Regions from separate parts of the Homo sapiens genome. Here region 2 is linked to region 1. The links come from fine-mapping of genetic effects on gene expression. Tissue or cell type: whole blood. Region 1 holds a variant in brackets; the other region holds the start of a gene. All regions are shown on one strand. Distances are between the middles of the regions.

The links. PIP is the estimated chance that this variant, and not a neighbour inherited with it, causes the effect.
Region 2: it holds the start of CD302, and the variant in region 1 is fine-mapped to the expression of CD302 in whole blood (TOPMed, PIP 0.99).

Annotation. Positions count from the first base shown.
Region 1 is chr2:159,606,767-159,614,874 of GRCh38, reverse strand. The region is part of intron 1 of BAZ2B (bromodomain adjacent to zinc finger domain 2B); the gene reads left to right. Among named protein-coding and RNA genes, the nearest start is that of BAZ2B-AS1, 4.5 kb to the left of the region's middle. RefSeq lists an enhancer at 1-376. The variant AATG/G (reference allele first, on the strand shown) is at 4,221.
Region 2 is chr2:159,794,413-159,802,520 of GRCh38, reverse strand. CD302 (CD302 molecule) reads left to right here and starts at 4,313. Exons shown (of 6, transcript NM_014880.5): 1 at 4,313-4,389. The coding sequence starts at 4,323. The region is part of intron 33 of LY75-CD302 (LY75-CD302 readthrough); the gene reads left to right. LOC124906083 (a long non-coding RNA gene) reads right to left here and starts at 7,331. Exons shown (of 2, transcript XR_007087273.1): 1 at 4,569-7,331; 2 at 2,269-3,702.

The DNA.
Region 1 (8,108 bases):
TGTAAACTTTACGGAGAAATTTTCCCAAGAGTAAATTTTTTGCTTAATTTTTCTCCTGTTTTATAGGATTGTGTAACTTACAGGTTACTGATAAGTTGTGTGGCTTATTTTTGTGTTTTGCTCTCAAAATCAGTATACGAAGTCTGCGTATTGTATGTTTTGGTAACAGGTGGAAGATTATATGCAAAAAATGGTAAAAAACTTGTGCGTCATTTGTTATTTATCTGGTTTTTGTGTACTTTTTTTTTTAATTTAAAGGTTTCAACTGTTATCTGTAGTCAGTATATTCCCTTTCTTATTTGCTCCACTCTCCCTTATGGATTTTTTGAAAATTAGCTTGGTTAATATTTATGTATGGTTATTTTAGATTATCTGGCTCCCCGTTTCTAATAAAATGTTCTGGGGTTTTCTTTTTCTATTATTTATTTACATTTTGAAAAGAAATGACTATGGAAAATACCTTAAGATAATGGATACTTTAAAATTTAGTAGCAGATATTAAGTCAAACAATTATTGAGTATTTAAGAGGCAGAATTGATTTTAAAAGTTATTTTATAATCGCTAGCTATAAACTCTTTGTCAGCCATTATGAACAGATAAACAAAAACTAGCACTGTTTTAATTTGCTTGTCTAACATAGTTTTTCGCCTCACAAAAGTTGGTTTGGTCACATGACCAAGCTTAATGATACACTGACTAGTATATAAATAAGAGGCACTGTATATTGAATGGGAAAGTGGAATTCTGTCTCCTGTAGTCATTTTCAGTCAGCATATTTACATCTCTTCTAACAAGGACATGAAACTGTCTGTATTTAATTTGCATTCTCTTTGTCTTCTGGGTTGAGGGAAAAACACTGACTACAATTAACTTAAAAAAAGCTAATAGAAACAATTCTGAATACATTGAAAAGGTTTGTGTAACACACAGAAATTTATGTTCTATATGGTAAGTTTTTATTTCTGTAGCAGTCTTCTTTGGTGTTATCTATTTATCCAGGAATTTGCTTCATGTAATATGCTATATAGAAAGCTTGACTGAGTTGAGTGTCTGCCATTTATGTGAATTGTAGGTAGGTGAAAAATGTTTAAATAGTTAAAAGCACATAGAACAGATGGTTCTAAATTATACATGCAACAAAGGACTAGAAGATTTGGCAGATTATAAATGGCAAGCAACAGAGGATAAGCAGTTTAAGAAAATGGTAGTTAAGTACATTTGATGTCTCACACCTATTGTAAACACTGTACATATTATTGTCACTCTGCTGCATAATCAGTAATTTGGACAACATTAAGACACTCGTATGGTTCAGATAGAAAAAAGTAATTTTTACAAGTATTTGAAACAAGTGGTTGAATTTAAAATTATTTTAAGCCTACGATGATGAAGAGTCTTTTTTTTTTTTTTTTTTAGAAAATCAGATTGTATGCTTTAAAAATACAAAGTTATTTATGAGAACTTAATATTGTGTTCTTATAATGGTTGGAGAGAAACAGGAATGGGTACATATTTTAAAATCCAGATAATAGTAGCTTCACTGTTCTCACATGTTAAACTAGTGCCGAATTGTAGTACCATTTACTCTTACAAACACTAATGAAAAAATACTTCTAAACTCTTCAGTCTTGGAAATGCATTTATTGGAATACTGCTGGCATCATTTATGAAATACTTATTAAATGAAGGAAGGATATATTTTAGTTTTAATTTTTGAGTTTTATACATAACATTATGATACTGATTTTACTTGAATATTGTTTATTTACAATTTTTAGAATAGATGGATTCTTATGCAGGTTTTTTCTTTCTAGAACAGTCTCTGAGTAATTATATTTAGCATTTTCAAAAAATTGGGAATAGCTTAAAGTATTCAACTTGGTAGAAATTTGTTTTTATTTTTTATAAGCCATTCATTTAAAATGCACATAAGACTGTAATGGAAACCTTAGAATTTTAATTCTGTTGCCCTTTCTCCCATTTCTTTGTTTGCATGTTTATTATAGAACTGCAGTGTAAAGGAGCAGATGTTTTGCCAAACATCCTGATGTGTTGCTTTTTCTTATGGGAGTGCATAACTGTTCCTTCTGATGCATCAACTTGACAGCTGGTTGATTTCATGGAGCTGCTAAGAAGCCATTAGTGGTGTCATTGAATTGAAACAGAACAGTCATTCCCAGCTTGAACTGCAATTGTTAATGTCTTTGTTGCTACTTTTGTGTTACTATACAAGATGTAGGATATCACAGTTGCATGAAAGTTCAGGATTTCTGTCTTATCTCCTTGAATTAGTGAAAGTATATTTTGGAACTTGATTACTTTTAGGTTTAAAGGTTTCTCAGAGAAGGGATCTTAAGTTGTAGTTTCTGAGTAGAACTACCAAAAGAAGAGATATGATTTAGCACAAATTAATATGGTGATTTTGACCCTTAAGAGGAATTACGTCATCAAGTTTTAGTGATTATTAATATATTTGATTTCCTGGGGGATTAATTAAGTTACCTAGTTAGGTATTTTAAGAGTTTTTTTGGTTACATAAAATTAAGTATTTTTTACCATGAAGTTTTAAAAATACTGTTGCCTTTTTAATAAATGTTAATCCATTTGGCTGTTTCTTTAAACTTTTGTTCTAGGAAGTAATCACAAAAGAAAAGAAATAATTATTGGGGAAAGAGGCAGTTTTGTATTTAATTTTTCTTTATAATGAGGCTAAAATGTTATTTAAAAATTCATACAAACTATGATCTAAAATAACTTACTAGTAGACATTTAATGATTTTTAAAAAATGAAATTATATTTTTATTGTTATAACTTTTATTGATAGTTTCAGCTATCATACTAAAATGTGTGATACTAAATATGTGATACTAAAATGGTGTCATACTAAATATGTGATACTAAAATGGTGTCATCCCATTGGTGCCTACATATATTCTACTTTTTCTAATTATTTGCATGGTGTTTTTTGGTGGTAGAGGAAATGGGAGGGAGAAAAGAGGAAGAATGAAAAGTGATAATCCCAACACAGAAACATCCATTAAAAAATTCATGTAAATAAGATTTAAGGATATAATATAGTTTATTTATTACTATGTTAAGAGAATTTTTCTAGTCCCAATATTTATTGACTTTTAATTTGTAGGTCTTTAGGTGTATTAGGCATTTAAATAATTCTTCAAAGAGCATAAAATTTGTAACACTTAAAATAATTTGCCATTACAAAAATAAATACTTAAAATATGAAATTGATTAGAATATATAATTTGCTCAAAACTTCCTCTACAATATAAATTTTTAACACTTATGCCATTGATTCCAGAATTATGATTTCCTGAAATCAAAGTTTATAGGGACCCTTTCCTTTTAAATAGGTTGTACATTACTGACTAAAGCTAAGATTTATATTCAGACATTATGCTTTCTCAACCCTTTTTACATAGTAGCCATACAACTCCTTAAAAAGAAAATCATTCTGTTACCTTTGACTATGACTCAATATTTAAGAAATGTATTTACTCATAACATATTTTTGTTGAGGTAGATATTCATATAAATCAAATTAAGGAACATTGAATTGTGTATGAAATGTGAACTTTTTTTTAAAGGACTCCTGATGCTTAGTTTATCTTTAGAGATAATATAGTCTTAATTGTACTACACATAAACATCCTGTAGTTTAAGTAGGAATTTTCAGGCATCAGATTTCTAGAAGGAAGGTAATTCTCAATAGAAAGGTCATTTTAAAAGTTCAAACTTTGATTTACAGTTTTTTCTGTTGACCGTATTAAGTATGAAATTATGGGTAATAAATATATTTAATTCATTTTCAACTGCATATTGAGTTATAAAATATTGGCCACATGTTTATTGAAAACAGGAAAAGTAAATGAATATATATGACTTTTAAATGTATTTTGAGTGCTATTTGATTTGTGGCAGTCATAATAGAGTTTGAAATATAAAATATTTAAAAGTATGGATATTTACAGTTAAACATTGAGTTTTTAACCTTAATAGGGTTTTATAAGAATATGAGGTGAAAATATAGTTTTTATTCCACATACTTAAATTTTTACTATATAAGGTAAGAGTATTTCAATTTGTTTTAAAAGATAACGCTTTAAAAATAGTTTTTATAATTTATAAAATTCAACTTGTACTTTGGCTTTTGAATGCCTTTCATTCAAATAAAAACTATTGCATATTGGGGATAATAAT[AATG/G]ATGGCAACATAGATAAGAACCTTTACTAATTTTGTGTTGTGCACATGTGTGCATGGTATATAAGAAAAAGGAGCATTTGGTTTGAAGATAATTCTTGGATTAGTACTTCAGCTATGTGTAGACATAATTGGGTGTTTTTTCCTGTTTTCTCCTCTTAACACTTTTCCACAAACATGCACTCATTAATCAAAGACGGTGCACTCCTGCTGAGGGCAGAGAGGTTCATCAAATTGGCAGTCAGTTTGGTGTAAAGAACGGTGTACTGAAGCTCTTAACTCGCTAGGACATAAATAAATCTAAGGTCTTTGTATGCAAACCCTAGAGGTTAATACTGTATAATTCAGTGTCCTGTCTTTGTTTTTATGATTGATGTTTTTAAATGTTTCAAGCTTGGTGAAAGTCTTCTAGTAGGTCAGGTCTGACAATCTGATTGGCTGTAGTAAGAAAGCATTAGGTTGTCAGAAGGACTTTGAGTATGCTGCAGAGATTTTGATTTTTTTTCCTATGAGATCATTGTCATATTGCCTGAGCTGTTATAGGAATGTACCAATGATTGACATTGCCTGCTGTGATAATGGACCTAGTGCATGAAATGCCAATAGTTCGGTCCTATTTGTTCAGAAGCTTACTGCTATTTGTATCCTTAACACAGCTAACATGTAGAACAAGCAAAACTACTGGGATTTCTCTGTAGAAATAGTGCTGGGATTTGGCTTTAACATGAATTGGTTGCATATTCATAATTTAAGAACAGCTGGTTACAGCAAGCACATAGTCATTTGCAAGCTATTATAAACCATTCCACTCACATGGAGCCTGTGCTTGGTGATTTTTTTTTTTTTTTATTGATCTACCTGCATTTAAAATCTGGTCACTGCTGCTACAGAAGCTCTTTATTTTAGCTGTGTTTGCAACACAGAACAGGTTCAATTTTAAATATTTAATTTAAACTTAATGCTGAATAAAATGAAGAAGCTTTGAAGGAAACAAGTGTAAAAGGTCATGTCCTACCTGTCACGGCCAGAATCAACCAAACAAACCTAGATTATACAACTATTGTAATTTTTGGAATATGTGTTTTATGATTTTGTCCATAGATCAATAACAGAATTATCCTGGATTTGGAAATATTGCTAATAATATTTTACTAGTTATACATAGTTTTGGGAAACAACATTAACAGTAGATTGTGATTAATTAGTCTAAAACAATGTCATCTAATATGTAGAAAAGTAGTATAATACTTTTAGCTTATGAGTGGTGGTGTAAAGCAAGATAGAAGGGAAAATTGGCATGACTTTATAACTGGATTAGAATAATGCTAATCCTAAAACTATAGAGTTACTCTAGTTTTTTAGAAGAAATCTAATAAGGAGTCTCTTTTGCTTTTTGAGTCACTTCTGGAGTATTAAGCACAGGTATGCTCTTACAGTATTTAGGTGGTATTGGTAAGTTAGGCCAGCTATAATAGTTTCCTGCATGTTGTCAGTAATAACTGTAAGGAAAGAGGAGAACACCTTTGTGTCTCAAGCTTTTAGTGAGAAGGGTGGGAGGAGAAAATGTTAAATGCTATTTCAGCTCTCCTTTTAGGAATCACAGGGAGCTGTGCTTTGATTTGTGTATATTAAAATAAGTGAATACCTGAGTGATTTACAATGATGCGTTTCCACACATGGTGTTAGGCTCACATGTGCATGTATGTGTTTGTCCCCACACTAGATGATGAAGTAGCTCTCAGCACTTCAAGGTTGAGTACCAGTCCTAAGAGTGCATTTTACTCTTTCTTGGCTTCAGAAATGGCTGGATAGGTTTGTAATATAACAGAATATATGGCCAAATTTAATCCAGCTGATAGTAGGCTGTACTTTTTTTTAAACAACAAATCCAAAGGTTATTAAAGGATGATGCATTGTGTTTTAGTTTTGAGTTGCATAGGATCATAACTATAATTAGTTAACTTTCCATTATTTGAGATTATATCAGGCATTTTGTAAATTATTTTATGTCTTCTTCACTCCCTTTTGACTATTGTCCTTTCATTTATTTCTCTGCTCTTTAGCATCTCATCACAGAATAAAGGAAGGAAAATTCAAACAAATCTGGTTTTCCCTGCCTTCCCCACTTCTTGATGAAGAGGGGTTCTTAGTTTTTGACTAAAATGCAGGTTTGGGATTTTATTTGTCTGCCTTTTCTGGTTCTCATTACATAATTATATTTAGAAAAGAAGAAGGGTGAGTTAATGGACTGGATTTTTATTTTTACTTTTTATTTTTTTGGAGACAGGGTCTCACTCTGTTGTCCAGGCTGGAGTGCAGTGGCACGATCCCAGTTTACTGCAGCTTCAACCTCCTGAGCTCAAGGGATCCCCACCGCCTCAGTCCGCCAAGTAGCTGGGACTACAGGCTTACGCTGCCATGCCTGGCTAATTTTTGTATTTTTGTAGAGACGGGGTTTTAGCATGTTTCCCAGGTTACTCTTGAACTCCTGGACTCAAACAATCTGCGCACCTTGGCCTCTCAAAGTGCTGGGATTACAGGCATGAGCCACCACGCCTGGCCTGACTGAATTTTTCTATACTGTATTAGTAACCCAGCAAAACAGAAAATTTAGACGTTGTTTGAAAAAGTAAAGTGACTCAGTGACATCCACCACAGAATTGCACATATTTGATACATTTGTATTATTCTAGTATTAATAATAGGAAAAGGAGGAGGCATCTACCTTCATTCTTTAAGCTTTTATTGAATGCTATCTCCAAGCATGCTCTGGGAGAGCTATGGATAACAATTTATGGAAGTTCATAGTAGGAGAGAGATGGCTTCTCATTGGAATAATTAGAAAAGGCCCTTCGGTTTAGGTAGCATTGAACTAGATCAAGAACAATTAAATTTTGAATATTCACAGATCAGGAAGAAAAGATCCAAGAAAAGAAGGACTGCATAAGCCTATTATAGAACAAATATAGAGCTAGAGCTCTATATTAGAGCCAATCCATTTGACATCTGGGATGGTTCTGCCTTTTCAAGGTCACCCCAACCCATACCTCTTCCACTAGAAGGAAAAGAAAATGTCATGGGATCCTTCCTTTCAAAATTGACTGCTTGGCTTTTTCTGGAGAAGATGGGTTAATCAGTTTCAATCCTCCATTTCAGTGATAGGCTTATTTGTGAAGGCCGGGTTAAAACTGACAAAACTACCCTTTCTGGTTAGAGGTATTCAAATCTTCTGTTTTGAGATTAACCAGAACCCCTCCCTTTTCCTTGGTTCTTTTCCTATGCTTTTGTGAACAGTTTTTCTGGAAATCTAATGCATGATCCCCCCTGCTAAGAACATTGAGTAGAGAGCAGAGGGTGATATATGTGTATCCCTTTTCTCCATGATGATGGCTCTGGCTCAAAAAACACTTTTACTTCTTTTAGTTCCTTCGGATGAATGCAGAAGACAAGCAGACTGCTGGACTGCCAGTAACGGGCATATCCATAAGGACAAAAAGGAGGGCCAGGCGTGGTGGCTCATGCCTGTAATCCCAGCACTTTGGGAGGCCGAGACAGGCAGATCACTTGAGGCCAGGAGTTTGAGACCAGCCTGGTCAACATGGTGAAACCCTGTCTCTACTAAAAATATAAAAATTATTTTTTTTGAGGCGGAGGTTGCAGTGAGCTGAGATAGTACCACTGCACTCCAGCTTGGGTGACAGAGTGAGACTCCGTCTCAAAAAAAAAAAAAAATAGAAATCCCACTAAAAAAGAGTATGAAAAAGGAAAGATTTAAAAAATTTTCAAAACACAAATGTATGAAAGATCTTTTACATAATGTCTTGGCCAAGGACAATAAATTTTAGTAGTTAGTCTTTTCCTAACTTCATTATTACTACATCATAATAA
Region 2 (8,108 bases), 190 kb before region 1:
GCTGCAGTGAGCTGAGATCGTACCATTGCATTCCAGCCTGGGTGACAGAGCAAGACTCTGTCTCAAAAAAAAAAAAAAAAAAAAAAAAAAAATTGAAAGGGAAATTAGGAGATGAGGAACATGAGATTTCGAGAAGTATGATGGAGACAGAAAGGAAAGGGGCTGGGCCATAGCCAGAGGGGAAAGAAGGGTTGAAAAAGGGTTTTTTTCTAAAGGGGAGAGAAAGAGGTTCACAAGTTTAGAAGCTGAGATGAAAAAAACAAAAACAAAAACAAAAATAATGGACAGAGAGAAGTTGATGATGCAGTGGGGAGAGGGAATCATTAATGGAAGATCTTGGAGAAGATAAAATGAGAGGGGCAGTCCTAAGCAGAAAGAGGAACTGGTTTGGGTGGGCTGGAGAAGCATGCCTTCCTCTCTGAGACCACAAGAGAAGAACTGCAGATAAGCATTTGAAGATGTTTGTCTATATGTAATGGCACCTGTTTTCTTGTGTACTAGAAGGCAAGGTCTGCTGAGAAAGATGGGTAGCAGATGGGGTCTTTTAAAAAGTTTTTTAATTTTTTAGAGACAGGGTCTGTCTCAGTTGCCCAGGCTGGAATGCAGTGGTGCAACTCTAGCTCACTGCAGTCTCGACCTCCAACATTAACTTTTTTTTTTCCCTAGAGACAGGTGATTTCAATGTTACCTAGGCTGCTCTCAAACTCCTGGGCTCAAGTGATCCTCCCACTTCAGCCTCCCAAGTGTTGGGATTACAGGTGTGAGCCACCATACCCAGCCTGGGATCTTAGCTTGAAAAGAGTAATAAATTTGAAAGACTCAATGAGAGAAATAGGAGAGGACAGTGACTAAGGTAAAATCAAATACAAGGATTGCAGAAGAGGCATAGAAGGCCCAGATGAAATTAAAAGCCATATTGTTTATAGTGACAGCCATCGGGAGAACTGATTGATTTCCTCCACCTGTCCTCAGTTAACTTCAGTAAAGTTGAGGAAAAAGAGAGCACGGGCCAGGCGAGGTGGCTCATGCCTGTAATCCCAGCACTTTGGGAGGCCAAGGCGGGCAGATCACTTGAGGTCAGGAGTTCAAGACCAGCCTGGCCAACATGGTGAAACCCCACCTCTACTAAAAATAGAAAAAACTTAGCCAGGTGTGGTGATACACGCCTGTAATCCTAGCTACTCGGGAGGCTGAGGCAGGAGAATTGCTTGAACCTATAAAGTGGAGGTTGAGGTGAGCTGAGATAGCGCGACTGCACTCCAGCCTGGGGGACAGAGTGAGACTCCGTCTAAAAAAAAAAAAAAGCATGAAGAAGAAAGCGGAGACCACAGATTCCGAGTTGGCCAGGTGAGCACACCAGGGGAACAAGGGGACAGAGGATGTGGTATTTCGGCTGGGTGGAGAAGGGAGAAATAAAAGGCTGAGAAAAATGCAGGCAAGGGACTGAAGTCTGGCATGAGCCAAAAGAGGATGTAAGTTGGAGACAGAGTGAAGGAAAATTAAGGGTATGAGGTGTAACTGGAGAGTAAATGGGAGAGCGAAATATAACAGTACCCACATACAGGCAATAAGTAGTCTATTTCATCAGATTAGCATCAAAAATGAGGCAGTGTGCACCAGAGTTAACAATAAAATAATATAATTTTCTTTAGTACAAATGACTTAAAATGACAGTGTTAAAATGGGTTTTGCCTTAATTAGATTGATTCATTAGGATGTCAATTCTATTGTAAATATAAAAATATTTGAAAAGTAGCTTAACACAAAACCACATTGATAAAATATACTTTGGTGCCTGAGGTGGGGGTGGAAGAGATAACTTTCACAATTACATGATTGCTTAGAACTGTTCATTTTACTTCTGTAGTTAGGAGGGCAAAAGGGTCCAGAATCAAGATGTGTCAATATTCCAATATAGAGTATCTTTGGAAGGATTTGCTCTGGTCTGGAGTTTGGTATATAATAAACTCAGTATTGGCAGCCTGAGAAGAAAAATGGAAGTAAATAAGTTAAGCAAGACCTTAATACTTTGGCAAAGGGGCAGAACCTGGAATAGGTGGGAGAGTCCAGCAGAGGAGCTGGGCTCTGGTTCATTTGTTGGCATTCTCTGTGAGCCCACGGGGGAATCACATCCCTTCTTTGGGTCACTCAATTTCCTTACTAGTACCACTTCTAACACTCTATGACTCTCCTTATAGACCCCTTGGGTCAAATTTCCTTGGTGTAACCACTCTGGATTATCAGAAGTGTGGAAAGGGTTAGAAAGAGTTGGAAAGGGTCAGATTTTATTTTTTTAAAAATAGACTAATTTTTGAGCAGTTTTAGATGTATACAAAAAATGTAGCAGAAGGTACAGAGCTCCCATGTACCTCCTTACACATACCCCAGTTTCCCCAATTATTAACATCTTGCATTAGCAGGTACATTTGTTACAGTGGATGAGCCAATATTGACACATTATTAACTAAAGTCCATTGTCCACACTAGGGTTCATCTTCGTTTTGTGCATTCTATGGGTTTTGACACATGTATAGTGATACACATCTACCATTACAGTATCCTACAGAATAATTTCATGGCTCTAAAAATCCTCTGTGTTCCATCTATTCATCCCCTCCTTCTTCCCACCCCAACCCCTGGCAACCATTTATCTTTTTACTGTCTCCATAGTTTTGCCTTGTCTAAAATGTCATATAGTTGGAATCATATAGTATGCAGTCTTTTCAGATTGGCTTCTTTCTCTTAGCAATACATATTTAAAGTTCTTCCATGTCTTTTTGTGGCTTGATAGCTCATTTAATTTTGGTACTGAGTAACATTTCATTGTTTGGATGTGCCATTGTTTATCCATTCACTTATTGAAGGACATCTTGTTTGCCTCTAGGTTCTGGCAATTATGAATAAAGCTGCTATCAACATTCATGTGCAGGTTTTTGTGTGTATGTAAGTTTTTAACTCATTTGGATAAATACCAAGGAGTTGTGATTGCTAGATGGTATGGTAAGAGTACGTTTAGTTTTGGAAGAAGCTTCCAAATTGTCTTCCAAAGTGGCTGTACCATTTTGCATTTGCACCAGCATTGAATGAGAGTTCTTTTTGCTCCACATCTTTGCCAGCATGTGGTCTTGTCAGTGTTTTTGGATTCTGGTATCTAATAGGTATGTAGTGGTATTTCATTTTTGTTTTCATATACAATTCAGCAATGACATATGATGTTGAGCATCTTTTCATCTATTTGCCATTATATAACTTCTTTGATGACGTGTGTATTCAGATCATCTGACCATTTTTTTTAACTGGGTCATTTGTTTTCACGTTGTTGAGTTTAGACTTGATTTTATAGAACTCTTTTGCCAATGACATGAGGCTTAAACAAGCACCCTTGCTTGACCCTGGCTAGTGTTGTCCAGAGGCCCTCATGGGTGAAGTATAATTGCACAGTTTATGCATACATTGTAGCAAACATAGCTTAAAGACTCTTCATCCAGGAGCTGGTAACAGAGAAAAGTTGTCTAAGAGACATAGTCCACTGAAAGGGGTCTTTGAAAAGGAGGATTCTGGCCAGTAGATCCAAAGAAGAAGGCTGGCAAACGCCACCTTAACCAACTGATCCAAGTTAACATCAGTGATGAGACATCGACATCTTGTCCTTCTCGAGCACGTACATCACTTCTGGGGAACTCTTTCCCAAAAAAGCGCAACCTGAATCCAATTAGAAGGAAATGTCAGACAAAATGAAACTGAGGGACATTCTACAAAACGACTGGCCAGTACTTTTTAAATGTGGTTTGATCGTGAAAGAAAAAGAATGACAGAGAACCGTCCTAGATTAAAGGGAGACTAAGGAGACACGACATGCAATGTATGATCCTGGATTGAATCTTGGAACAGAAAAGGACCCTTAGAGGGGCAATTAATGAAATGTGGTAAGTGCTGTAGATTAGCTAATCGCATTATCCCAGTGCGAGTGCCCTGTGTTTGATCACTGCACTGGCGTTATATACAATGTCAATATTTAGAGAAGCTGGCTGAAGGGTTACGGAAATCTCTTGTGCTGTTTTTGCAACATTTTCGAAAGTCCTAAATTATTTCAATTCAAATGAAAAGTTTAAAAAACAAAAATTAGAAGTTCCAGAAGGCCGCGCGCCAGCCGCTCCTGCGGGACGGGACACCCGGGTTCTCCTGGTGGGAGCCCCCAGTGCCGTTCACGTTCCGCCCGGGGGGGGGATTAAACTCGCACGCGAGAAGCACCGCCCCCGCTCCCGCCCCGCCCCGCTCCTCTCCGGCCGCGCAGCCGCTGCCGCCCACCCGCACCCGCCGTCATGCTCCGGGCCGCGCTGCCCGCGCTCCTGCTGCCGTTGCTGGGCCTCGCCGCTGCTGCCGTCGCGGGTAAGCCCTTACGTAGTCCCTCGCCGGGACCGTGCGCGACCGCCTTCGCCCCCTTCCCAACGCACGCTCTTCGTCCCCGCGCACCCGAGGGCGGCCCGCAGACGCAACACCCGGCCGGCCATCCCGCCCTTCCCTGCACGCCCGTCCCCCGTGGGTCCTGGCTCCGGGTCACCTCTCACCCGCCTGCCCTCGGGGAGGGGAGGTGGCCGAGAATAAGGGAGGGCTCTGTCTTCCTCGGAGTCCACATCCTCACCGCAGACCCCACTCCGCGGGGAGGGAACCCCCAAATTAGGCCAGTTGGCCGGAGAACTGAGGGACTTGGAGTCGCACGACGGGCGCCGTTTCAGGGCAATTTCGGGCTGAAATGAGAAGCGGGGACGTTGGTGGCGATTTCCCCTGCTGGTGCGCGGCCGGAGTGGGGTTGCTGGGATGGGGGTGGGGGCCGGAGGAAGTAGGCCCTCTTTTGCAAGCAGCGCTGTTTGTCTAGTTGGTTGGTGTTCAAGTTGTTTAAACAGGAAAACAGTTCAGCCAAATAACCCCTGGATGGAAGAGGAACGGGAATAGGCAAAGCTTGGATTTCACTGAAATCAAGGAGTTTTAAAGTTCTAGTCTGCTGTTGTGCAAGTGACATCTGAAAAATCACACACGTGATCATTCATTTACAAAACGACTCGTGAGGAAAATGCACAATTCTATTGACCGTGGTCTTTATTTTTAAAAAATTTCCATACAAGCATGTCAAAAATATGTGGATGGGGAGACTCTGGAGAACACAGACTTCCAAAAACACCACTGACTGAATAATTCCAGGAATTAAAGAGCAAAATAAACAAGAACTAAATGAGTACTTGTGTGGGCTTAAATAAAGTGCAAGAGATTTAAATAAAATGCAAGAGATTCCCCCCCCCCACCCCTTGCCCCAGATTTCACTGCGTTTTTATAATAACTGCCTGCTCGAAGTCTACTGACAGGAATATTTCAGTGGACCTCAGTGTTGGAGGCAGCAGCAGCTCAGAACTTGGATACAAACCCAAGGTTCCTTTCTTGAAAACTTCTGTGGACCTGCATTTATGACTGGTTGTGACATCTGCTGCCTATCAAAGGGGCAGAAACAAGATGTGCCCATGTTCACATTGTTCAGACTGGGAACATTAATTTTGTCTAAGACAAAGCTGGGCTGTCTCTGAACCCTCCTTCTGCACACCCTCATTTTGCGAGCCAGTAACATCTCAACTCTCATGTAAACCACCCTCTGCGAGGCTGTGCATTTGTACTTTAGGCTAGTCGAATTTTCTTGTCAGATTTTTCTTTCTTGTCAGACTTTTAAAGAAAATCAGTTTCTAGATTTTGGTATGTCTCTTCTTCAGTGAAGCTGTTTTGACCAGCAATAGAGGGCAAATTTCCCTTTGGAAATTTTTGTGCATTTCCTTTGATAAGTCCAGTGTGGATCAATAGGCTTTTCAAGAGCTTTAGAAAAGTGCATGATGAATAAATTAATGTTAATTAATCAGCTCCTCCCAGTCAGGAAGCTTTAAGGATTAATTTGGAAATGAGTGTGAGCTTTGACCTAGCTAGTTAACCAACTTATCTGCACTTCAGTAAAACAGAGATAATACTTACTCATGGGGCTATTGGGAGCATTAAGTGGGAACTCCACGTCTAGTCCCTATTACAGGCGTGGTTCATCTTGGTTTCCTTCCCTTTATTCTCTTCATACAAAATGAAGGGTAATTGTTGCAACCAGAAAACGTATGAATACCACCTTATGTATATTGGATGTTTATGGTTACTGAACACATTCATATGTATGCTAATGTTATAGGGCTGAAAAACTAAGTGTGTTTTTCATAATACTTTACAAATCTCCCATCCAAGCAAGATCAGGGGTCATATTTGGCTTAGAACTAAGTCAAGAAAGAGTTTGTTGCTGAATACCAAGATCTTAATAGAAAAGCTCTTATGATGTTGCATAATAAATATGGGTATTGCATATAAATGTGATGTTGAAACGGAAATCATTGTTATTGTCTGTCATTCTGGAGGTTATTAGTGAAGTGATCTTAACCTTGTTCTTAGCTATTATTTTGAAAATCACAGTGGACAAAACATTCTTTAAATTCCTGAGTGAAAATCCATGGCATCGCTTTAAAAAGTTTTTCCGTAAGGGTGCTTAAGCACATAATAGATGATCAGTATGTATTTATTTGGTCAGTGGTTTCCTATGCCTGGCATGAGCTGAGTGAACAAGCATGTTCCGAGTAAGTCCTCATTCTGTGATCATCATGTGGATCAGAATCTAGGGATTTTGAATTGCCATGTCCTACAAGCCTTAGATGAGGTGCCTCTGCCTTCTTCCCTGATGTCATCTCTTACCACCCTTCCTGCCATTCACTCTGTGTATCCACAGAGTAAACAGTATCTGGGTACTCCAACACCTCTGGTCCTTCTGTGCACACCACCTTCCCCCAGTCCTTGGCATGGCTGCCCCCACCTCCACCATTCAGATCTCTGTTCATATGTCACCTTCTCCGAAGCCTCCCTGAACACCCACATTCTCTGTCACATGTCCATGTTTTATCTTTTCCAAGCCTTTCTGAATGCATTGTGTTTATTCATCTGTCTTGCTTGTTGCTTCTCTTACCAGGGGAAAGAAGCTCCATAACAGAGATTTTACCATCTTGTGGATTTTTGTTTTGTTTTGATTTGTGTCTCTGCACTTTATTCTAAGTTATAATAAAAGGATGAAAAAATTTAGGTGAGTTATTTAAAAAGTAGGTAGGATAAGTGGATTGCAATTTTTTTCAAATTATATTACCTCTGCTATGCACTCATTTCATAATGAATTCAAAGCCTTAAATCATCTTAATCTATTGCTGCCACCTTTTCTTTCTTTCTTTTTTTTTTTTTCCGAGATGGAGTCTCACTCTGTCACCCAGGCTGGAGTGCGGTGGCGCAATCTCGGCTCACAGCAACCTCTACCTTCTGGGTTCAAGCAATTCTCCTGCCTCAGCCTCCCGAGTAGCTGGGATTACAGGCATGCGCCACCATGCCTGGCTAACTTTTGTATTTTTAGTAGAGATGGGGTTTCACCATGTTGGCCAGGCTGGTCTCAAACTCCTGGCCTCGTGATCTGCCCACCTCGGCCTCCCAAAGTGCTGGGATTACAGGTGTGAGCCACCGTGCCCGGCCTGATGCCACCTTTTCTGACTCTTGTGTATGGCACAGTTATGTTTCAGGGGAAATTATCTCAGATTAAATATTAGAGTATTTTAAAATAAATTTTGAGCTGGGCGTGGTGGCTCACGCCTGTAATCCCAGCACTTTGGGAGGCCGAGGCGGGTGGATCACGAGGTCAGGAGATCGAGACCATCCTGGCTAACACGGTGAAACCCTGTCTCTACTAAAAATACAAAAAATTAGCCGGGCGTGGTGGCAGGCACCTGTGGTCCCAGCTACTCAGGAGGCTGAGGCAGGAGAATGGCGTGAACCCAGGAGACAGAGCTTGCAGTGAGCTGAGATCGCGCCACTGCACTCCAGCCTGGGCGACAGAGCGAGACTCAGTCTCAAAATAAATAAATGAATAAATAAATAAATAAATAAATAAATAAATTAATTAATTTTGAAATGTTAATGTTTATTTTTCTTCCAATGAAAAAGTGAAATTTCAATTAGGTATTATTTCAGGACTTCTTTTACTGTTGAGAATCTTTTAACAATTT